Regions from separate parts of the Homo sapiens genome. Here regions 2 and 3 are each linked to region 1. The links come from fine-mapping of genetic effects on gene expression. A gene starts in region 1. Each other region holds a variant in brackets. All regions are shown on one strand. Distances are from middle to middle. Region 1 holds the start of TFIP11 (tuftelin interacting protein 11). Region 2 overlaps ASPHD2 (aspartate beta-hydroxylase domain containing 2). Region 3 overlaps HPS4 (HPS4 biogenesis of lysosomal organelles complex 3 subunit 2).

Region 1 (8,159 bases):
CCTTTCATATCCTTGTGGATACCGTGATGCTTCCCATCAAGGGCCTTTGCATATTGGGACCTCTTCTACCACCCTAGTTACCTTCTACTGTCAGTCATATCAGCTTAAGGGTCACTTTTCTCCACAGAAATCTTCCTTGACCTCTCAGAATAGATGAAATGCCCTAAAATGTGTTCTCCCTCATGTCCTCATGTCCCTCATGTCCTGCATCACAGTCACAAGTTTGATCGTCTGAGTTGTTAATGCCTATTTCCATCTTCTAATGTCTGGGCTCTAGGAAGGCAAGAATGGGTCTATAGCACAGGCCTAATACATAGCAATCGCTCAATAAACACTGATAATTAAATCAGTGAGGCCAGGCGTGGTGGCTCACGCCTGTAATCCCAGCACTTTGGGAGGCTGAGGTGGGTGGATCACTTGAGGTCAGGAGTTCAAGACCAGCCTGGCCAACATGGCAAAACCCCGTCTCTACTAATAATACAAACATTAGCTGGAGGTGGTGGCGTTTGCTTGTAATCCCACCTACTCGGGAGGCTGAGGCACGGGAATCACTTAAACCTGGAAGGTGGAGGTTGCAGCTAGCCAAGAGCACGTCACTGCACTCCAACCTGGGCAACAAAGTGAAACCGTGTCTCAAAAAAAATAATAATAAATAGAATAAATCAGTGAAAGAGCAGCACTCTAGCCTAAAGAGGAAACCAGACCTCTCGAGATGATGTCACAGCTAACAGTCTCAACAAGGCCAGGTGAGAAGTATACTTATCAGGGTATCTCCTCCACTCCCTGTCCATCTTCCCCCTCTTCCCTAAAGCAAGGTGAAGCAGCCCCCATGCCAGGCAATACCGTTTGCCTCCAAAGCTGGGCCTCTCATCATCCGAGTCTCGCTCTGCCCACACCCCGTAGGTGGCTTCTTCCTTGGTCTGCCAGTGGCGCTGTCGGTTGGGGTTGAACTCATTCTGGAGATCCCAGTCAGTGATCTCAAAGTTCTCCCGCTCGTCATCATCATCATCAATGCGGCCTTCCCCATCCCGGTATAAGTGGGACAATGACATGGCCAGTCACTAAAGGAAGAGACAAAAAGAGCACAGGCCGTAAGTCCTGGGGGCAGCAGTCGAAGGATTCCTTGTGAGTCTCTATTCCTTGCTGCTTTCAGAACTTTCTCCAAATTCAAAGTCCATTAAAGTCAGCATTACTATTCAATAAAAAAGATATTAAAAACCTACTTTTAGATAACAATCAGTACTAAAACAGGTGAACAAAATACTACTCCTAACAGTCTATGATTCTTTAAAAGTACATATCTCCTTGTCCTAGTCAATATCATAAATATCACACATATTCACACATACACAAACCACACAAAAATAACTAAGTAGGTTATTTTGTACATTATTACCTTAGAAAATGAGTAGGTATCTTCTTAGATCCCAGATTCTTTTTTCTATTACTGAGGAAAGAATTATATCTGGATCCTTGGTGGTCCTAGGAGAGTGATTTTTTTTAGAATATGCTTTTTGAAATACATTACTTGATGAAACAAAATTTTCAGTTTTCCTCACAAAACATGAATTTCTTCTGATGAACTGAAAGACTGTAGTAATTATGAACACTATTTTAATAGTCAGATGTCCAGAGATTGATATAGAGAATCTACCTCACAGTAGCTGGGTGACCAGATTCAGTTGTCTTTCTTAAATTGGGATTAACTACCATACCAACCTTAGAGAAGGCTTACAAAGCAAATTCAATGAGTTCAAAATAAGTGCTCAAGAAACGATAGCTTCTACTTTAGTCCCATGATTAGGTTAATCATTGTATTAGTCAGGGTTCTCTAGAGCGACATAACTAATGGAATAGACATACATATATAAAGGGGAGCTTATTAACTATTAACTCACACGATCAAAAGGTCCCACAATAGGCTGTCTGCAGGCTGAGGAGCAAGGAGAGCCAGTCAAGTTCCAAAGCTGAAGAACTTGAAGTCCAATGTTCGAGGGCAGGAAGCATCCAGCACAGGAGAAAGATATAGGCTGGGAGGCTAGGCCAGTCTCTCTTTTCACATTTTTCTGCCTGCTTATATTCTTGCCGTGCTGGCAGCTGATTAGATTATGCCCACACAGATTGAATTGAGGGTGGGTCTGCCTTTCCCCACCCACAGACTCAAATGTTAATCTCCTTTGGCAACACCCACATAGTCACACCCAGGATCAATACTTCGTATCCTTCAATCCAATCAAGTTGACACTCAGTATTTACCATCACAATCATCATTATTATTATGGGACTAGGGAGTAAACTTAGCAAAGTGACTGTAAAATCAGGCAGGCTAAAATCGAAGCCTGAGTTCAAATTCAACTCTATCAGATACCCAGTGTATGAGAATTAAATATGCACGTGAAGCGCCAAGCATGGTGCACTACACAATAATACACTCCATAGGTGACAGCAATTGTGATTCTTGTCTTGCTGAAAGCGGCCTTAAGGCACACGGAGTTCACTACTTCCACAGGCAGTGTCAAACTCTGGTCACCTCTGGCAAAACGTTATCTCTGCCTTCTTCTACTCACTGGTGCACCGGTTGGGTGCAACGGGTCCCAACCTCTTCCAGGAGTGTTTAGGACAGAAGGATTTTCAGAAAAGACGGGGAATCTCAAATACATAAAGTTAAATAATACCACTGCCTGCGTGGGCATAGTAAATGGTAATAAGCCCCGAGTAGTCACAAGTTATGAAGCCTTTATCAGTAGATGCTAGGTACATGCTGGTCGCTTGAGACCGATTATCAACTGTCTGCATCAAGACACTTCTGCAAGGTAGGTACCGTTAGTTTTCATGCTTCAGATAAGAAAAAGGAGGTTCAGAGAAGTTAGTAACTTACCCTAGGTTCCACTGCTCATAGGGCTCAAACTCAGGAGTGCTAGAAGTCAGGCCTCGGGCTTGTCTCTCTCTTGCTGTCTAGGTTTGGTGAAGGAAGCTCAGGTTCTTAAATGAATCCAAGCCCTAAATCCCAGTTGACCCCAAGCAGCACCGCCCCTCTCCGTGCCTCGGCAGAGCTGTCTACGAAATGGATTCCCCTCCCCACACCCCAACGGCTTGGACCGAAGCTCGCCTTCCCTGAGCCTTCGTCCCTACTCTCACTGGCGCTGAGTCCCCTTGTGGCCAGCCGTGCTCACCTGTCCGAGGGTCCAGCGTACCAAATTCAGCTTCACCATCCGCGCGAGAAGACGCCGCTCCTACACCAGAACCCGGAAGCACCGTGGCCGGCGCGCCGGAAATGACGTTAGTCGACAGCGGATGTCCTGCTGGCTGCCAGGGCAGCGTGGGACGCTACGGCGGATATGGCTGCAGAGCGGCCGGCTGGGATCTTAGATAGGAGGGGTGGATTTGCAAGGCCTAGAATAGCTGGGGAGTGGTTTCCCCGCGGAATCGGCCTCCCTGCCGCTCCTGCTTTGTACTGTGACGCTCAGCCTGTGATGACTGGTGTGGAATCCGCTGAGCCACCTTGGCCTAAGGAGACTTTACCACTCTGAGATTGTAAATCTGTAAAATAGAGATGTAGGATTAGCCCATACGGTAGTTGTGGTAAATACTGTGAGACAATAAGGGGCCTGGGACACAGCATTCAAATGGGAATAATGAAGGTCAAGACTGTGATTCCTGTATCTTTGACGCTCTCGGTATAAGCACCGTCGTGGGCACAGGGCAGTGGCCTTTATGCAGGAGTTTAAGAGGGAATGAAGGAATGAATGGGCAAACTCTGGAGTTCCCAAGTATTCTCTCCAGGAGCTGTTTCCATTCTTTTCGTTTCCAGCAGGTTGGTAAATTCATTAATTTATTCATTGATCTAATTAAAATATACTAAGTGCCCCTCACCTGTGCTAGGCCAATGTGATACAATGAGCAGAACAGTCATGGGCCCTCCCTGGGAAGCCCTCACTAGCCCAAGGACTCCTTGTAGACATTTAAGTGTCCACAGGCTCTGGAGTTCCAACCTTGAGTGCAATTTAGCAGCTGTGGACCTTGGGCAAGTCATTACATCTAAGCCTGTTTTCTCTTCTGCAAAATGGTTAAGGATTCAATAAGATAAAACTGTAGGCAATGAAAACCGTACCTGGTAACAGTAGGTGCTGAAGAAGTGTTAGCTATTAATTTTTGCTTAATTTTTCTCTCTCTGCTCTATGTGATGAAAAGATTCAAGAGGCAATTGTTGGAATGTAAAAAGAGCACGGGACTTGGAGTCAAATACTTAAGTCTACCATCAAGTAGTTGTTAAGAATTAAACAACAATTTTTGTGTACCCAGTTAAATGTGGGCTGCTTAGGAATGATGACTGTGTCTTAATGATCTCTGTATTCTTAGTGACATGTAGAATCATTGTGCCTGACACATAGTATGTACTCAGGAAAGAAATGGAAAATGTGGTTTTAGCATTGAAGGCCGGGAGAGAGGGTCTAACAGACTACAAGCCCTGCCAGGAGCAGAGTAAGGGAAACAGAGGAGAAAAGTGTTTTTAGTCTGTGCCTGAATGTATTTACATCTGTTTGTAGCCCAAAAGCCAAAAGCATACATACGCTTGGCTTTTCTGTAGCTATGTTTATGGCTTTACAGCAGATTTTATGGAGCTGCAATTACTTTGATCATGAGGGACTGATGCTAGTGGATTTACTTCACCAAATGGAACTCACTTTGTGGCTTCTGAAGAAGGGACCTTTGTGGACTGTCATGGAGTAGTTAAGAGTGCAGGCTCTGATTTAGTGATCAGAGTCTGCATTGTCAGGAATGGGACAAAGTGAAGTTATGTGGCACTTGATAGGATGCCCTGAGAAGATTGCAACATCACCCCTGTGATATTCCTGCTGAAGATCCATAACCTGGATGTAATCATGAGGATATATCAGACAAACCCACGTAAAGAGACATGCTGTATACAAAACTGTAATCTTAGAAAGTGCCAAGGTCATGAAAATCAAAGATAGACCCTGGAACTGTTCCAAACTGGAGGGGACCAAAGAGGCATGACAACTAAACACAACACATGATTCTGAACTGGATCTTTTTGCTTGAAAGGAAGTTACAGGGACAGTTGGAAAAGTTTAAATGGGGCCTACAATGCCGTGGTAATGATGTGTCCGTGTTAATTTCCTGATTTTCATGGTTGCCTGTTAAGTTACATCAGAGGATGTTCTTGTTTGCTGGAAAGTAAATCAATGTATTTGGCAGGGGATAAGGCATCAAATGGTCACCTTAATTTCAAATTATTACAGGGAAAATGTTTCTCTCTGTACTTAATAACTTTTTTGCAATTTCTTAAAATGAAAGCTCTGGAGTAAAAACTTCAAGGATCCAAATCTCGACTTTGCTACTTCTTAGGTATGGGCCCGAGGGCAGGTTGCTTCACCTCTCTACACCTCAATTTTTCCATCTGTAGATTGGGGATAGTGACAGTACTGATCTAAGAGAGTTGTTTAGAGAAAAACAAAAACAGAAAGTGATAATTAGTGCATGTAAAGCTCCTGGCATGGTAAGAGCTTTCTAAAGGATTGTGGCTATATTCTTATTTATTTATTTATTTATTTATTGAGACAGAGTCTCACTCTGTCGCCCAGGCTAGAGTGCAGCAGCACAATCTTCGCTCATTTGCAACCTCTACCTCCCAGATTCAAGTGATTCTCATGCCTCAGCCTCCCGAGTAGCTGTCATTACAGGCGCAGCTGTAGTGATTCTCATGCCTCAGCCTCTCGAGTAGCTGGCGTTACGCCGCCACGCCCAGCTAATTTTTGTTTTTTTATTTGTTTTAATTTTTTTTTCCCCCAGACAGAGTCTCACTGTGTCACCCAGGCTGGAGTGCAGTGGCACGATCTCAGCTCACTGCAACATATGCTTCCTGGGTTCAAGCAATTCTCCTGTCTCAGCCTCCTGAGTAGCTGGGATTACAGGTGTGCGCCACCACGCCTGGCTACTTTTTGTATTTTTATTAGAGATGGGGTTTCAACATGTTGGCCAAGCTGGTTTCGAACTCCTGACCTCGTGATCCACCTGCCTTGGCCTCCCAAAGTGCTGGGATTACAGGCGTGAGCCACTGCGCCAGCCTTCATTTTTAAAAACCCAATGTCATACCCCTTTCAGTCTCAAAAATCCATGGTTTTTCAGGATTTCTGGGATCAAATGCCCAGCCTTTGAAAAACAAGGAAAAGTTTTACAAGGCAACCAGAGCTTTAGGTTCAAGGTCTCATATCTATCGTGATCTCCTGTCATTTCCTAGAGGGGAAAAAAAAAAACAAAAACATTGCTTTGAGATTTGGGAACATCCACACTCATTTCTACATTCCCAATGAGGTGCTCAGACATGTGGCCTTCGCAGAAGGGGTTGCCAAAGCAACAAGGCTCCTTGGGCAGAAGGAGTCTGGCAGGGCCCTCCAGCACTCATGGGTCTATACCTCTCTTTTCGCAGCTGAGGCGGTGGGGGAGCCCCTGGCAGAGTGGAGGTGCCAGCACCACACAGTGAGTTTAAGGACAGGGCCAGGCCTGAAACCCAGGAGCTCAAACTCCCAGGCAGGTGCTTTCTTTGCAAAACCATGCATGGGGTCCCACATCATGATTCCTGTGTGTTCAGGGCCACAGAGCCAAACTCTGCAGACATCATCTCTTTGATTCTTCAGCCTTCTAAGGTAGTTTGTTATAACCCCAGAGTCCACATTCCTAACCTCTTATTTCTACAGCCTATGCCATACAGCACACTTTCCATATTGCCTACAAAAGATTTCGGGAAAAAAATATCGTCACTTAGTTACAACTTTAAATAGGTTGGTACCATAGAAACAATCCATAAGTGGCATTTCAAAGCTGATATATTTAAAGACTAGCACATGTACTTTTTCTAGGACAGTGACATTATACAGTTGCACATGGCTTATTCTTATTTTGCATTTTGTCCCAAAAATATATATGGTGTCCTTAACTTGGCAGAATTGAGAACCCAGATCAGCTGAGATTAGCAATTTGATTTCCCTCTAAATGTTTCTTACAGATGGTTTCTACCCTACTTATCTTTCAAGAATTCGTGAAGACTCTATCCTTATATGGAAAGCTGGAACATGAGGTTCCTTAGGCTCGGGGTGTTTATCTGGAAATTAAATATCCGCAAAACACAGTAAGGGGAGAAACCACAGCCTTCATCATTCATTTATTCATTTGTCATTAACAAATAATTAATGAGTACCTACATGTTATCTATTGCAGTATAACAATTACCTCCAAACGTAGCAGCTTGCAACACCAGTAAACATTATCTCACATAATTTCTTTTGGTAGGAATTTGAGAGTGGCTTAGCTGGGTGGTTCTGACTCAGGGTCTTTCATGGGGTTGCAGCCATCTGAAGGCTTGACCAGGGCTGGATGACCAACTTCCAAGGTGCTTCTCTCACATAGCTGGCAAACTGGTGCTGGTTGTTGGCAGGTTTCAGTTTCTTGCCATGTGAGCCTCTACACATGGTTACCAAGTGTCGTTATGACATAGTGGCTAGCTTCCCTCAAAATGAGCAAAGCAAGAGAGAGCAAGGCAGAAGCCACAAGGTCTTTTATGGCCTAGTCTTGGAGTCACACTGTCATTTCTGCAATATCTTTTTTTTTTTTTTTTTTTGAGACTGAGTTTTGCTCTGTCACCTAGGCTGTAGTACAGTGGCGTGATCTCGGCTCACTGCAACTTCTGCCTCCCAGGTTCAGGCAATTCTCCTGTCTCAGCCTCCTGAGTAGGTGGGACTACAGGCGCATGCCACCACACCCGGCTAATTTTTGTATTTTTATTAGAGACGGGGTTTCACCATATTGGTCAGGCTGGTCTTGAACTCCTGACCTCAGGCAATCCACCTGCCTCAGCCTCCCAAAGTGCTGGGATTACAGGCATGGGGCACCACGCCTGGCCCATTTTTTTATTTTCTTTATTTTTTATTTTTATTTATTTATTTATTTATTGAGATGGAGTCTCGCTCTGTCACCGGGCTGGAGTGCAGAGGCACAATCTCAGCTCACTGCAACCTCCACCTCCCAGGTTCAAGCAATTCTTCTGCCTCAGCCTCCCGAGTAGCTGGGACTACAGGTGTGCGTCACCATGCCCAGCTAATTTTTATATTTTTAGTAGAGATGGGGGTTTCACCATGTTG
Region 2 (8,181 bases), 75 kb before region 1:
AGGGCCGGTACCTCAACAGCCGGCCCTCCATCCAGAAGCCCGAGGTCTTCTTCCTGCCCGACCTGCCCACCACGCCCTATTTCTCCCGGGACGCACAGAAACATGATGTGGAAGTGCTGGAACGGAACTTCCAGACCATCCTGTGTGAGTTTGAGACCCTCTACAAAGCTTTCTCAAACTGCAGCCTCCCGCAAGGATGGAAAATGAACAGCACCCCCAGCGGGGAGTGGTTCACCTTTTACTTGGTCAATCAGGGGGTTTGTGTTCCCAGGAACTGTAGGAAGTGCCCACGGACGTACCGCTTGCTCGGAAGCCTTCGGACCTGTATTGGGAACAATGTTTTTGGGAACGCGTGCATCTCTGTGCTGAGCCCTGGGACTGTGATAACGGAGCACTATGGACCCACCAACATCCGCATCCGATGCCATTTAGGTATGTTGCAAGGACAGGGGTCTCCCGGCATGCACATTTGCAAGCTCAGCCCCTCTCCATCAAAACATCGCGAAAGCTCAAATGGTCAGAATTGCGCCTTTTCGCATTGTTCACTTTTAGCAAAAACTGATGAATTGCATGTAAACAATTTGACAGCAGAGATTGAGTCAAAAAGAAATCTTGTGATCAGTGCAAACCTAATTTCTGACAGCAGCTCTGTGCAAAGAACTTTCTGCAGTGACAGAAATGTTCTCCATCTTCATTGTCCAAAATGGTAGCCACTAGACACATGTGACTAATTGAGTGCTTGAAACTTGTCTCCTGTAACTGAGGAACTAAATTTTAATTTAATTTAAATAGCAGTGACACATACGGCTAGTGGCTACCGTATGGGGACAGTGTCGTTCTAGAGCCAAAGACTTGTTAAAATGATTACCGAGCTTCATAATGATGTCCAGGAGGCTGTGAAAGATACTTAAGCATCTTTGCAGTCATCAAGGATGAAATGATCCTTGGTGATAAGCTTGTTTTACTCCGATTCTGAGAAAATTGGTCGTATGCGTACTGTGTGTGCGGCTGTGGTTTTGCAAACAAAGACTGGAGTTAGACAGCCTTTGTTTGCATCTTGGCCCCACCACGAGCTGTGCTACTGTAGGCAAGTCATTTCACCTCTCTGAGCCTCAATTTCACTATTTGGGAAGTGGAGGTAAAAAGATCTTCTCCTAAAGAGTTATTCTGAGGATCCAATCAGATAATGTGTATTGTATGTATGCACACAGAGCCTAAAATAGAGCAAGTATTCAATAAAAGTAGGCTTAAAACAACTTAATCATGGAGGTATTAGTTCCCCAGAATGCCTTATTCCTGGTGAGTGGCGATAAAAAGCTCGTCTCTGGGATGGTGGCATCACCGGTTAGTATCTCAGATTAGAGTGTGCAGAGACAGCCTTGGCAGCGTCCAGCTTTACAAAGTTCACAACGCTGCTTCAGCTTCAGTAGGGAGGAAGGAAGAGCAGCAGGAGGAACCTGGTGCATGGGTTGGAGTGGGAGTTTCATAACCACGTTCTGCAGAGGAGCCTCAGGGCTGCCTGGGAAGGAGCCGGAGCTGGGGGCCCCCGAGCCCTCTTCACCCTCAGCAGCTCTGCTTCTCCTGCTGTCTGTGTGGGGGTTCTGAGTAAGATGTGGTTTGGATGGAGGATATCACTGCACTAAAAGAAAAGAAAAGAAAAGAAAAGAAAAGAAAAGAAAAGAAAAGAAAAGAAAAATATAATGAGATTTGAGCAATTGACATGGTAGGAATTTCAAGAGTAAAGGGCGGACTGGGTGGAGGCTTTGGGGGAGGTGGCCTGAATTCCTGGTCAGCAGTCAGCCGTGAGACTTTGAGCAGGTCACTGAGTCTCTCTCTGCCTCAGTTCTTCATCTGTAAAATGGGGAGATGGTACTTACTTCACAGGATTGTTGAGAGGATTCAATGAGTGGCATCTTACATGGCCCCTTGGCAGGATTCCTGGCACGTGACAGCATTTGATGAATGGGAGCTAGTAGCTATTATCAAGGACTGTGTTGGACCATGTGAAAAATGATCCATAAGACATAGACCCTGCCCCCAGGAAACAGTGGGAAAGGAACAGGCTTCGGAAGCAAACAGATCTGGACTCAGGTCCTGGCCTCGCCCCATTTGCTGAGTGACCTTGGGCAGGGCTCTGAACCTCCTTAAGCCTCCGTTTTATCTTCTCTAAAACAGAGATGACGATTCCCACTTGCTGGCTGTTTTGAGGAGTGGGAAGTAATATGTGTAAAATGCTTGGCAGGTAGAGGGCAGTGGACAGTAAGCTAATCTAAGTGATGGGATGATAATCCAGGTGATGGTCATTAGCAAAACTGCTGTGCGAGGCCCCAAGCCTCACTTGGCTGCAGACGGGGTGCCCTGGGGAGGTGGGTCTGACACTGGAGGATCCCCACACAGAAATCAGGTGCCGCCAGGGTGGAGCGAGGGAGCGGAATCATCCCCTGGGGCTTGGGGAAGCCGGGTCTAGGCTTGCTGGGGAGGCCAGTAGTGTGGGCTGAGGTTGGACAGGTCAGGTGGGAGCAAACCTCAGAGGCCCTTGATGCCAGGCTTGAGAATGGAGGCCGTGGGCAATGGGGAGTGATGCTCTTCTTTTGAAAGGTTTGCCTTTATGTATTGTTTTAAAACTTCAGAATGACATCTGGGGAAGGGCATTTGAGGACTGATGTGGTAGAATTTCAAAGAGGTGTGAGTAGGAAGTGATGGTAGCAAGGAAAATCTGGGGTTTGCTTTCTGTAGATTAACACTTGTTGTTCATCTGTATGATATGCATGCATGTGTGTGTGTGTGTGTGTGTGTGTAAAACATGCCCACGCTGGCTCACACTGTGGCCTGTGGCCTGTCATTCCTTTCTCAGCCCAGCTAGGTACTTGCCAGAAAAAGTAGGCCCTCCATGTTCCTGTAGATAGCAGGAAACCTTCTTGGAAGACGTCCCACTGTGGCGTGGCTTGTTCTCCACGGCCAAGGCGAGCTCCCTGGTTGGGTTTTCTCAGCGTTTCCTTCTTTACACTATCATGCCCACATTAATATCCACCCAGGAAGGAAACAAAGGTGTGTCGGATTTATGTGACCTTGTGTGTTGACAGAGAGGGAGTCCAGAGAATGAGGTCAGAAGCAGGATAAGCCTGGTGCGTACCTGGTGGCCACACCTCTGCTGGTTACCTGGCTGAAGGTAGAGGCACCTGCAGTTCCAGAACCGTGCTCTTGAAATGCCAATGCTTGCTTTTCTTCTGCCTTCTGCCTGAGCTGTGACTGATGGAATTGTCCCTGTGGACCACTGAAGACCCAGCCACTGCTCCTCACTAACACAGCCCATTTGTTCGAGACATATTTGCTGAGCCCTGCTGTGAGCTACTTCTAGAGGTGGCATCACCTAGTCCCGACTTCATATGGGACCACAGGACAGCTTCAGGCCCACCCCCCACTCAGCATCGTACACAATGCTGGGATATTCCAGATGCACTGCCACAAACTTCCAGAAAACCACCTCTGAAACTCACCAGGCAGATGTTACCAGGGAGGCAGATACTTCATGAAAATGCATGAATATGTTCAGCAAATTCTAGCTAAAGAAGCACAGTTAGACTCTTGTTTTTCTTTTCTGCATGTCATCAGATTTCTAGGTGGTCTAGCCGGGTGGTAACAGTAGATCAGCTCATGTTCCCCTTGCCCACCCTGAGTGCCCGGTTGCCAGCCGCCTGAAGTGGGGGCCACTGGTGGACACAGCCCTTTCTCTACCCTCCTTCCTGCCTCTTTCAGGGCTCGGTAGGGACAGAGCAGCAAAGCTTGAGCCATAGAGGAGCATATGGGACTATCTGAGGCCATGTGTGGGACCTGTCACTGTCCTCAAGAGCCACTGGAATGATCTGTTTAGGGAAGAATTGAGCTCTTCTGCCAACTAAGCTGGTTTGTGGGCAACAGGCAGGAA[T/C]GGGGGCAGGAGCAGAATGAAGGGGAGGCGGAGAACAAGAAGCAGGGGGGTGTCAAGCCAGCAGGCCAGGCCATTTTTCTATCGCACCGTGGCACGTGGCGATGAATCATTTAGTGGCCCAGAGAAAGGGGAGCTTCTTTCTGAAACCCCGGGGTGGCTGTCCCTGCAGAGAACTGCCCATTCCTAAAGGCCTTCGCCACCTGAACCAGCCAGTAGGGGCACACGCCAAAGGAAAACGTAGCCTCTGAGTCCCTCCATCTGGGCGTCTTTACAGCCCTGACTCCCCCAGCTGCTGTTAACCATAGTGGGAAATCATGGCTTCTGTCAGGATGAGCAGTCTCAGCTGATTTAATGAAATGTACTATTGAGAGTTGAAACATATTAGGGTCCTCTTAGAGGGACAGAACTAATAGGATATATATATACACACAGATATATACACACATACATATATATACATATATATACACACACACATATATATACATATATATAGATACACACATACATATATATACATACATATATATACATACATATATACACATACATATATACACATACATATATACACATACATATATATACATACATATATATACACACATATATACATATATATATACACACATATATATACATATATATATACACATACATATATATATATACACATACATACATACACACACACACACACATATATATATAAAGGGGAGTTTATTAAGTATTAACCCACATGATCACAAGGTCCCACAATAGGCTGTCTGCAAACTGAGGAGCAAGGAAAGCCAGTCAGTTTCCAAAGCTGAAGAACCTGGAGTCCGATGTTTGAGGGCAGGAAGCTTCGAGCACTGGAGAAAGATACAGGCTGGGAGGCTAGGCCAGTCTCACTTTTTTATGTTTTTCTGCCTGCTTTATATTTGCTGGAAGCTGATTAGATTGTGCCTGCCAGATTAAGGGTGGATCTGCCTTCCCCAGCCCACTGACTCAGATGTTAATCTCTTTTGGCAACACCCACATAGACACACCCAGGATTAATACTTTGTATCCCTCAATCTAATCAAGTTGAAACTCAGTATTAACTATCAGACATGTTAACTACAAGAAAATCAGCAATCAGGCCAGGCACAGTGGCTCAAGCCTGTAATCCCAGCACTTTGGGAGGCCGAGTCAGGTGGATCTCTTGAGGCTAGAAGTTCGAGACCAGCCTGGCCAACATGGTGAAGCCCCATCTCTACTAAAAATACAAAAATTAGCTGGGCACGGTAGTGCACACTTGTAATCCCAGCTACTCGGGAGGCTGAGGCAGGAGAATTGCTTGAACCCAAGAGGCAGAGGCTGCAGTGAGCTGAGATCATGGCACTGCACTCCAGCCTGGGCGACAGAGCACGATTCTGTCTCAAAAAAAATAATAATAAATAAAGAAAAATCGAAAACTCCACAATCACTTTAATTCCTCTGTTAATAGTATAACAACTAGCATTTATATCATCATGTCCAGTTTTATAACAGCCTGTTCTTTGGAGTCAGGCTGACTCAGCAACACTAAATGGTAACTTTTTAGCAGGTCATTTAACTTCTTAGTTACCCCATCTGGAAAGTGGGTGAAGTGATACCTGTTAAGTGTGTATTTAGCACAAAGCTGAGTAGGAAGACACAGTAGGTCTTCAGTTATTGGTAACAAGGATAGAAGTCCCATAGCAGCCCTGGAAGGTTCAGTATGCTAATGTCCCCTCTTTACAGGTGAGGGTATGGCTCAGAGAGGCTGAGTGACTTGCCCAAAGTCACACAGCACATAAGAGTCACAACCAGTCGTCTGTCCCCAAGTCCTCCGTCCTTCTGTCTCCTCCATGTGGCCTCTTTATTTGAATTATTACTGTGAACGTACTTCCTGGAACCATTATTTCTGGTTCAAAGAATACATTAAAATACTCTGGCTGCTGGAAGGAAAGCTATTTCATTTTTATGCTAAAGGACATTAAATCAGAGGGGAATGCCAACTGGCCCAGGGTCATTGTGGTCACAGTGAGTCACTGAAGACAGATGAGACCACCACCCATCCCAGCTCCTCTTCCAGGACTCTGCTTCCCCCTGGGTGGGCCTTCCTGAGAGCTGTTGGGCTGACCCAACCCCTTCTGAAATCATTAGATGGCCACGGTGGCCCCTTCTTTTCTGGACATCAAGGTAGTGATGGGGGCCAAGTGTTTCTGCAGACCCTTGTGTTGGAAAGGGCGACTGAGGGTCACACATGGCAGTGTTCCAACCGGACCCCACTGGCCGGTTGAAGCATACGGCTTATTTTTTATTTTTTATTTTTATTTTTGAGACAGAGTCTCACTCTGTTGCCCAGGCTGGAGTGCAGTGGTGCGATTCGCCCAGGCTGGAGTGCGGTGATGCAATCTCGGCTCACTGCAACCTTCGCCTCCTGGGTTCAAGCAATTCTCATGCCTCAGCCTCCCGAGTAGCTGGGATTACAGGCGTCTGCCACCATGCCTGGCTCATTTTGGATAATTAGTAGAGAGAGGGTTTCACCATGTTTGAGACCAGGCTGGTCTCGAACTCTTGGCCTCACGCGATCTGCCCACCCCTCAGCCTCCCAAAGTGCTGGGATTACAGGTGTGAGCCACTGTGCCCAGCCAAGCATACGGCTTCTTACAAAGCTGCCAGTCTATTTCCTCTTGAACCTAAGCCATTACCTTAGAAGTGTCCTCCAGTTTCCCAGAATGAGGGCAGACGAAGAGCACGCCATTCTCCAGCCTCAAAACGGATTAAAAGGCTAGAACCCAAGGAGGAGAACACTGTGTGAGCCTTTGATTTTTTAATCGCAACTGAGATAGTCCTAGAGGGGAGACTACAGTAAACACAGTTACTGGGTAAGGCAAGGTTCTAAACCCAACCTCCCTGGATTTCTGGGGGTCCCCTGGTTAGGCTTCAGAGTGTAGTGCAAATGTCAGTCTGTGACTTTCATAAAAGGAATCCATGACCCAGAATAGATGAAGCCAATGAAGGAATGAATTTTTGCCAAGAGTGCAGTGAAGATCTAGATGGTGGCTTATAAACAACAAAAATGTAGAACTCACAGTTCTGAGGCTGGAAGCCCAAGATCAAGGTGCCAGCAGATTTGGCGTCTGGTGAAGGCCTGCTTCTTGTTCATAAATGACACCTTCTCACTGTGACTTCACATGGTGAAAGGAGGTGGCCAGGAGCAGTGGCTCTTGCCTGTAATCCCAACACTTTGGGAGGCCAAGGTGGGAGGATAGCTTGAGGCCAGGAGTTCGAGACCAGCCCGGTCAACATAGCAAGACCCCATCTTTACAAAAAAAAGTTTAAATTAGCTGGGCATGATGGTGCACACCTATAGTCTCAGCTACTCAAGAGGGTGAGGCTGGAGCATCTCTAGAGCCTAGGAGGTGAAGGCTGCAGTGAACTATGGTGGAGCCACTGCATTTCAGCCTGGGCAACAGAACAAGACCTTGTATCTAAAAAAAAAAAAAAAAAAAAAAGATGTCAGGCCAGGTGCTGTGGCTCATGCCTGTAATCCCAGCACTTTGGGAGGCTGAGGCAAGCAAATCTCTTGAGGTCAGGAGTTCGAGATCAGCTTGGCCAACATGGTGGAACCCCATTTCTATTAAAAATACAAAAATTCGGCCAGGTGCAGTGGCTCACGCCTGTAATCCCAGCACTTTGGGAGGCTGAGGCGGGTGGACACGAGGTCAGGAGTTCAAGACCCGCCTGGCCAAGATGGTGAAACCCCATCTCTACTAAAAATACAAAAATTAGCCTGGCACAGTGGCAGGTGCCTGTAATCCCAGCTACTCGGGAGGCTGAGGCAGGAGAATCGCTTGAACCCAGGTGGCAGAGGTTCCAGTGAGCCAGGATCGCGCCACTGCACTCCAGCCTGGGCGACAGAGTGAGACTCTGTCTCAAACAAAACAAACAAAAAAATTAGCCGGGTGAGGTGGTGGGTGCCTGTAAGCTACTCCAGTGCCTCCCAGCTACTCCGGAGGCTGAGGTAGGAGTATCATTTGAACCTGGGAGGTGGAGGTTGCGGTGAGCCGAGATCACACCACTGCATTCCAGCCTGGGCAACAGAGAGAGACTCCATTTCAAAAAAAAAAAAAAAAAAAGGGAAAAGAAAAAAAGATGCAAAAGGAGGTAAAGAAGCTCCCTTGGGCCTGTTTTATAAGGATGCTGCTCCCATTAGGACCCCACCTTCATGATCTGATCACTTTCCAAAGGCCCCACCTCCTAAC
Region 3 (8,145 bases), 43 kb before region 1:
GAGTCTCTGAAAACAAACACACACAGAAGTTGGCGCTGGGCACCACATTCTCCTCTTGACCTAACCATCAGGAATTTGCTGTGCCATCTGTTCATAAAACTTAGCCAGGCCCAGAAAGCTTGTCCCAACCACATGCTAAGAGCCAAGCAGATGGAACAGAAGCTCCCCCAAGCTGCTGGCTCCCACTATGGCTGGGATGAAGCAAGAACCTGGGCCCACACAGGCTGCAAGGCAGCAGCTCCACCCAAACTCACATCACACTCTACGTTCTGATTTTCTCAGTCTCTCTCCCTTCTGGGAATAAAATTGAGGATTCCTGTTCTCTTTTACACCTTTGGGGAACTCATATTCTAGAATACAGTCACATCTGCCACAGCCCTGATGTAGAATTCACATAAATTCCATTATAATAAAAATGTCAAAATACTGTGACTCTCACGATAAAGGATTTGACTTAAACAAAATGCTATACCCAATCTCTCGTTTGTTCTGGTTCACAATCAGGGCCTAAAACCTGATGATTTTCTCAAAAATGAAAACATCTCTCGTTTCAATCTGAGGGTTCCAAAAGAACCCACCAAAACAAAACCAAACCAAACAAGAACTGCTCTTCTAGCCAAAATGACTTTCAATCTTAGAATGATATGGTGTTCTTCCTTTTTTGGTGATTTTTAAAAAACTATGTTTTAGATTACTAAGCCTAACCTCAATTTACTCTAGACAAAGCGTTGAAAAAAAAAATCACATACAATCCCTCATCCCCAAGCTAGTACTATTAATATTGGGTATTTTTTCCTTAAGCCTATGCAGTTTTTATACTTTTGAGGCCACACTATATAAAATTTCATATTTCTGCTTAAAACAGTAACACGCATTTCCTGCCACTAAAACATCTTTGGCCATTTTAAACGGCTGATTAAAATTTTATGAAGGTTTAAGTGATATGAGTAAATTAATCATTTACCTACCTTAGACCAGTAATTAGTAAACTTTCTGTGCAAAAGACAAGACAGTAAATATTTTTGGCTTTGCAGGGCATATGGTCTCTGTCCCACCTACTTGGTTCTGCTATTATAGCTCAAAAGCAGCCAAATAAAACTTCATTTGTAGGCAGGTGGCCCACAGGCCATAATTTGCCACCTCCTACTTTAAGCATTCAAGTTTTGTCTGATTTTTCACTTTCATAAAGCTTGTTGTGATCAAGTTTTGAGTATAAATTTTTTTCAGCAGTTACATTATTTCCTTAAGATATATTCCTAGAAGTCAAATTATTAGGAAAAAAATAAAGGGCATCCTTAACGTTCTCATTATCAAAGTGTTTCCCAGAAAGGCTACTTGAATTGACACCCATAGCCACAGTGGCTGAGGAGGCTGAATAGAGCCCTACCAGCATTTTACATGCCTGTTCACTAATACATGTAAAAAGACAGCCTCATGATACGCTGGAAACCACAGCTTCATACACAAAACAAAAAAAGGACTGGAAGGAGATATGCCAGATGCTGGCAGTGGCTATCCCTGTACAGTTCAAAGATGGGCAATTTTATTCTCAATGAGCATGCATGGCTTTTTTTTCAATATAAAAACAATTAAATAAATATAAAATGGAAGTATTTTAGAAGAGTTTGTTTTCCTTATTTTTTTATTTTTATTTTTATTTTTTGAGACAGAGTCTCACTCTTGCTACCCAGGCTGGAGTGCAGTGGCGCGATCTCAGCTCACCTCAACCTCTGCCTGCCAGGTTCAAGCGATTCTCCTGCCTCAGCCTCCCAAGTAGCTGGGATTTACAGGTGTGCACCACCACACCCAGCTAATTTTTGTATTTTAAATAGAGATGGGTTTCATCATGTTGGCCAGGCTGGTCTTGAACTCCTCACCTCAAGTGATCTGCCCACCTCAGCCACCCAAAGTGCTGGGATTACAGGTGTGAACCACCGTGCCCAACCCCCTAAATCTTTCTAAAGACACATCCTTTACAGTCTGTCTCTGAAAAGTCTAACATCTCTTTGACATAAAGAGACATCAAATTCTTATGGGAAGTCGAATTCAACCAAGATTTCCTTGGTTTGAAGAAAAAACAACTATCCAGGCCTAGCTCGTGGAAGAAAACATTTTCTTTCAGCCTCACCAATGGCTTCACTACTGAGGAGAATGACATTGGAGGACTTGGGGTCCTGACAAGACCAAGTGAAACAACTGCTCCACGGCCTCTGCTCCTGATCCCTCCAGCCTCAGGCTCAGTGACCAGTGCTCTGGGGGATGCTGTCCAGCCAGGTGGGTGGACTTTACAATACCTGCTCCTGAGGTGCTGTTCGGTGAAGCAGGACCTTGGCGGTGAGGGAGGGCGGGAGTTGGGTGCTGACAATCCTAGGAGGTCACACACAGAACAAGAACACCATGAGACGAAATACACCAAAACACTCCAAATTTTAAAGATGCCTAACAGCCCGTGTTGACGAGGATCTTGGGGACTTGGCTGGTGGGAGTTTCAACTGGTAAAACCCTTACAGAGGGCACTCTGGCAGTTCCTACCAACATTTAAAATATCCAAACCCTTTGACTCAGCTTGTACCAAGATGTATGCGTAAGAATATTCATTACAGGGAGAATGGTAAAAACAATTAAAAAATGAGTAAACCACCAAAATGTTCATCAACAAGACAGTAAAGCACAACACAGCCAGAATCCCAAAAAGTATGCAGTCCTCATAAGAATGAGGTAGACCCATATGAACCGGTAAGGAAATCTTCACTGTATGCGTTGAGAAACCATGTGATCCTATTTAAGGAGATAGCAAAAATAAACAAAAGCAATATATGCATACATGTACCAGTGGGGACAAACACACAGAAAGAGCAAGATGCCCACCAAACTGCCAATGGTGAGGACAGGTTAAGAGTGAGGGAGAGGCTGGGCACAGTGGCTTACTCCTGCAATCACAGCACTTTGGGAGGCTGAGGTGGGAGAATAACTTGAGCTTAGGAGTTTGAGACCTCCATGAGCAACATAGTGAGATCCCATCTCTACAAAAAAAAAAAAAAAAAAAATCAAAAGCTTGGCCAGGTGTGGTAGCAAGTGCTTGTTGTTCCAGCTACGTGGGAGGATCACTTGAGTCCAAGAGGTCGAGGCTGTAGTAAGCTGTGTTTATGCCACTACACTACAGCCTGGGCAACAAAGCAAGACTGTGTCTCAAAAACAAACAAACAAAAATGGTGAAGAAAGAAGGGGGGCTTTTAAATTGTGCTCTGTGTGTTCCTCTATTGATTGATTTGTTTACAGTGAAAATGTATTCATGTATTAGCCGTATAATGTAAATACAGGCTGGGTGCAGTGGCTTATGTCTATAATCCAAGCAGTTTGGGAAGCTGAGGATCGCTTGAAGCCAGGTGTTTGAGACCAGCCTGGGCAACATAGCAAGACCTCGTCCCTACAAAAAAAAAAAAAAGAAAAAAAAATATATATATATACATTTAAGAAATGCAAAATGAGAAAAGGGGAAAAAAAATACTGTCTTTGGTGGGTATGTCACTGACGAACTTGGAAATCCCACAGCTGATTCAGAACCATCATGATAAGAACC[G/A]GGGCAAGGAAGAAGAGTGCAAAGCCCACCAGGGTCTATGCTCGGTTCTTCCGCATCTGTCATCTCATTTCATTCTTCACAAGGGATGTCTATTTCCCAGAAGAGAAAATTGAGGCTAAGCAACTTGCCCAAGGCCGCATGGCTGGCGAAAGAAGGGAGGATCTGGGGCCGAGCCTGTCTGGCCCAAGGGCCCCTGCGAGAGCCTCAGTGCTTCTCCATTTACACAGTAGTTGCCTGCTCCTCAGGAAGCTCCGGGCACAGCGCAATGGCCCTGCCTGCCCTGGGCTGTGACAGCAAACCCTCCATGAGGAGAGAGGCCTTAGATGACCTAGAGTGGCTCTTGGGCACTCAGATTCACCAAGAAGCCCTCCAACTACATGAAGAAGTGAAGTGAATTCTCAGAGGCCAACCAAGACACTGGCCCAGCCAAGAGGCTTGAAGGCAGCTGGATAAGGGCCTGTAAGGCTGCTTTGCAGAGCTGAGCTGAGGCAAGCACACCAGGGTCTCTGGGCAGCAGGAGGAGGGTCACAGCAGGCCCCTTCCATGCCTCTTGACTACAGTGCTGGCTGCTGGCAACGCTCGGGACTCTGCATTAGCATTTTGCAGACTGACAACTATTCCAGCATGCCCCATACTGAGAATTATAGGGACATTCTTAACTCTTTTCTGAACACAACTATTTCCAATTTCTCAGCTTTGCTCAAAGACAGGTACACACCTGTCTTTCTAAACTGAGTCAAATCTAAACTACCTGATATTTGCCGAACCAGCCCACTTGGAACTGGCCAGAGACTGGGCTCCCCACTGTGATCTGGAGGTGGCTGATGGTCAGTTGTGCAGCAAGGGAATGGGGCTGGAAGAAAGGGGTCTGGAGTTACTCACAGTCCTTTATAGAGGATGCAGCCAGCGAGAATGTGAGGCGAGCGCTGGCAGGTCTGCAGAATGCGGGCTGCCTTCAGCAACAACAGGGGCTCCACCTGTGCAGGGCAAGAGGCATCATGCCCACCCATCAGCATGCTCACAATCAGGAAGGGAGAAAAGGGGAAAGGGTTGTACAGAACAGCTGGACAGGGTGTAGCTCAAAGCCTGGAAAAGGAGAATGTGTCACACAGTGAAAGCTGTGCCATGGCTTGGGACTATTCTACCTCTCTATACTCAGAACTGCTGACACCACTAAATGCCAAATTCTTAGAACAAGGAGGCCTGTCCAGAAGCTAGAAGGTGCAGCAAATATGGCATATGGCTATTCAAAGGGGTCAAAGTAGATGGCCTGGGAGACCGACTGTCTACCCTGACAATGCTAAGACCTCACGGCAGCAGAAGAGGAGGGTGTATCCTATAAATACATGTCATGGTACCAGGTGAAACCCACCTACCCTATCCTCCACTTTCCTTCTGAAGCACAATCCCCATGGTGATACAGGTGGCTTGATGTCTGACCAGGTTCCATGACTCTATTCCATCACATAAAATGAAAACATCATGCTCTTTCACTCGGGGAAATATGCCTCAGTTCCACATTCCTTGTATGGAGTCAGGGGCCTAGAAGTCCCTAAAAATACAAGAAAAGCATCTGGACCTGGTCAGGAAGAGCCAGCAATAACCAGCAGCCTCCTCAGACTTCCACCTGCCAGCTAGAACCAGCAAGTATCCACCAGCTGTTAGAACTAGTGTTAATGGAGCCTCCGGAGCTGCTGACACATTAAGAAGTTTATTCTTCATAGCCTCAAGACTGTGCCATCCCAGCCAGCCATTCTATAAAGCTCTGGGGCCAGCTACAGGAAGTTTTCCAGACTGGAGCAGGGAAAACCCTTCCCCATGTCTGGTGGAGTCATGCTCTGTGAAGGCTGAGCCACAGTGCTACACCCCTGCTACAGGGACATTATTTACTATCGCAGTGAGACACAGGAGAGGGCTGTGAGTCAGGGCTCAGGTAGCTGGCTCTTAATGGGGCAGCACAGGTGGTCAGGCCAGCCACACAAGCAGCCTAGGTTTCACTGAGTGCCAACCGCAAACGGAGCGGCTCAGAGATACAAAAACAGTTCCCAACCATTCTCTCTCAAAGACAGCAACCTTGTTTTTGAAATGTTCATGCTGGGCATTTTTGATGCTGAGAATAACTAGATCATATGATATGAATATCAAGAGAGGCGGCCTTCAGATTACTGAGTTCAACACTTCTGAGGCATGAACAAAATACTAATTCCCTTTACTGAGCATTTACTTGGTGTCATTTGAGGTACTGCTTCACTTGATCATCAAAACAGTTCAAGAAGGCAGGTATGCTGACACCATTCTTTGGATAAGGGAAATGAGGCTGAGAGGTGACCTGCCGTGTCATGGCCCTGCCTGAGAAGTGACATTCTACTCACTTTTCCAGATATAGTTCACTTCAGGAATATTAAAAAAGTATCCAGAAGCCCTAGTCTTACATATAAAATGAATAAGGAGGATGAAAATGTTACTTTAGTTTGGTCCAAGTTCCAGAGGGAATTGAAAATCTTATGCAGATCACTGGTGTTTTTCAGAATTTGCTCGATGAAGGTGTCCCACTCCGTGCTCAGTTCTTCCTGAGAACAGTTCTAAAACAGAAAGAGCCTCAGGTCAATATCTGAGATTTTGAGGGACAGATTCTTTGGCCAGAGTCCCAACTACCTCAAAAATTGTTCCTCACACAGGAAACTGACCGGAAGGGAGGACCTGTTTTAAACCTATCCCATCACAGATCCACGGCGCCTGCCGCGTGGGGGTGGCAAGCAGGGCCTGCGCTTTCTAAACATCCCAGGGAGGAGATGGGGATAAACATTTGGAATAAATGTGACCTATGCCACTAGGCCCAAAGGCATATGAGGGGCCTCCAAGAGCTCCTGACCTTGTCCCCAGACACAATGTGTTTATATGAAGTATACAAGACCCCAGAGTAAGTGCTGCATTCTGGCAATACCGGTTTTTATAAAGAGGCCCAATGTAAGACTCCTCAACCCCATACTTGTACCTCATAAGCTAGGGAAACAGGTCCATTGTAAAAATTAAAGAATCCAACTAGCTGATCCAGAAACCGCTTGCAGCTGACATCAGGGAGCTCCACAGCACAGCCCAGCACCTGTAAAGAGAGAAACCAGGAAGACAAGCATCTTCCTTCTCTTTGAGTCCAAGCCCAGAATCCTGGCATCCAGGGCTCTCAATTACCTGACTTCACTGGCCCATCGAAATTGATCTTCTATTGTCCCTGAGTCCACACCCTTCATTCTGGCCAAGTTAATCTCCATGGACAAGTAAGTTCTGTACCTCAATTCATGTTTTCCAATCTCAAATGTCCTTTTCCTTATTGTTCATTTCCCCAGAACTTACAACCTTCAGTGCCCACCACCAATTTCAGTATCTCCATGAGGTCTGTTCTATTACCTCGAGCCAATAATGCTGACCTTTTTTCTGACCCTTGCATTGTTAGGACTGTTATTTGGACAGTAGATGTTTAATCTGGATTCCATTACAAACAATGGACAGGACTCAAACTCCTTCATGAATGGCCATCATGTTTCTCCAGCTGGATAGAGTGCTTTAAGAGCAAGAACTGACCGCAATCTTCCCAGTCCTAGATCTCCAAAATGCTGAGCGTAGTGGTTAGTTCCACAGAAGATAAATACTTGGCCGGGCACGGTGGCTCATGCCTGTAATCCCAGCACTTTGAGTGGATCACGAGGTCAAGAGATCGAGACCATCCTGACCAACATGGTGAAACCCCGTCTCTACTAAAAATACTGGGCGTGGTGGTGTGTGCCTGTAGTCCCAGCTACTCAGGAGGCTGAGGCAGGGGAATCGCTTGAACCTGGGAGGCAGAGGTTGCAGCGAGCCGAGATTGCGCTACTGCACTCCAGCCTGGCAACAGAGCGAGACACCGTCTCAAAAAAAAAAAAGTACTTGCTGAGTTAGAAAGTTATCTGGTCATATGTTTAAAGAGCCTGAAAAAGTTCCTATTACTTGATGTAGTAATTCTACCTCTAGGAATCTGTCCTAAGGGAATCATCAGATATTTAAACTAATAAACCCTGACAGAAAACAAATAAACAAAAATTCCCTCTGAATGTAAGCTACAGTAGCACAAGGATCTTTGCTTTGTTCCCAGATGTAATCCAAGAGCTTACAACAGTCTGGCATGTAAGAAGTGTTCAATTCTTCCAATTGATGAACAGACTGAATGCAATTGCAATCATAATCCCACCAGCTTTTCTTCAGAAACCACAAACTGATTGTACAATGAAAACACAAAGAACCTGAAATATCCAAAGCTATCTTGAGAAAGAATAAGGTTGGAGAACTTATACTATCTGGTTTCAAGACTTACTATAAAGCTATAGAAATCAAGACAGTGTGGTACTCACACAGAATCTTCAAACAGATCTGTGGAAAAGCCGAAAAGAGTCCAGAAATAGACCCACGCTTAAATGGTCATCTGATCTTTGGCAAAGGAACCAAAGGGAAATCCAATAGGGAAAGGAAAATGTTTTCAACAATGATGCTGGAAGAACTGGTTATCCAGGTGGAAAAAAAAAAAAAGATCCTTG

Evidence for each region. PIP is the estimated chance that this variant, and not a neighbour inherited with it, causes the effect.
Region 2: its variant is the best candidate, but not a certain one, in a credible set for the expression of TFIP11 in whole blood (TOPMed, PIP 0.78).
Region 3: its variant is the best candidate, but not a certain one, in a credible set for the expression of TFIP11 in whole blood (INTERVAL, PIP 0.72).

Annotation. Positions count from the first base shown.
Region 1 is chr22:26,509,221-26,517,379 of GRCh38, forward strand. It overlaps TFIP11 (tuftelin interacting protein 11), which reads right to left and starts at 3,253. Exons shown (of 15, transcript NM_012143.4): 1 at 3,174-3,253; 2 at 2,879-2,955; 3 at 1,397-1,482; 4 at 844-1,061. The coding sequence starts at 1,052. It overlaps TFIP11-DT (TFIP11 divergent transcript), which reads left to right and starts at 3,312. Exons shown (of 2, transcript NR_144529.1): 1 at 3,312-3,814; 2 at 4,192-5,348. RefSeq lists enhancers at 3,136-3,315, 3,538-4,075.
Region 2 is chr22:26,434,070-26,442,250 of GRCh38, forward strand. ASPHD2 (aspartate beta-hydroxylase domain containing 2) reads left to right here. Exons shown (of 4, transcript NM_020437.5): 2 at 1-432. Among named protein-coding and RNA genes, the nearest start is that of ASPHD2, 8.9 kb to the left of the region's middle. RefSeq lists a silencer at 6,478-6,634 and an enhancer at 7,947-8,181. The variant T/C (reference allele first, on the strand shown) is at 3,926.
Region 3 is chr22:26,466,257-26,474,401 of GRCh38, forward strand. It overlaps HPS4 (HPS4 biogenesis of lysosomal organelles complex 3 subunit 2), which reads right to left. Exons shown (of 14, transcript NM_022081.6): 5 at 6,576-6,683; 6 at 6,046-6,162; 7 at 4,463-4,557; 8 at 2,295-2,367; 9 at 1-6. Among named protein-coding and RNA genes, the nearest start is that of HPS4, 13 kb to the right of the region's middle. RefSeq lists an enhancer at 4,704-5,903. The variant G/A (reference allele first, on the strand shown) is at 3,581.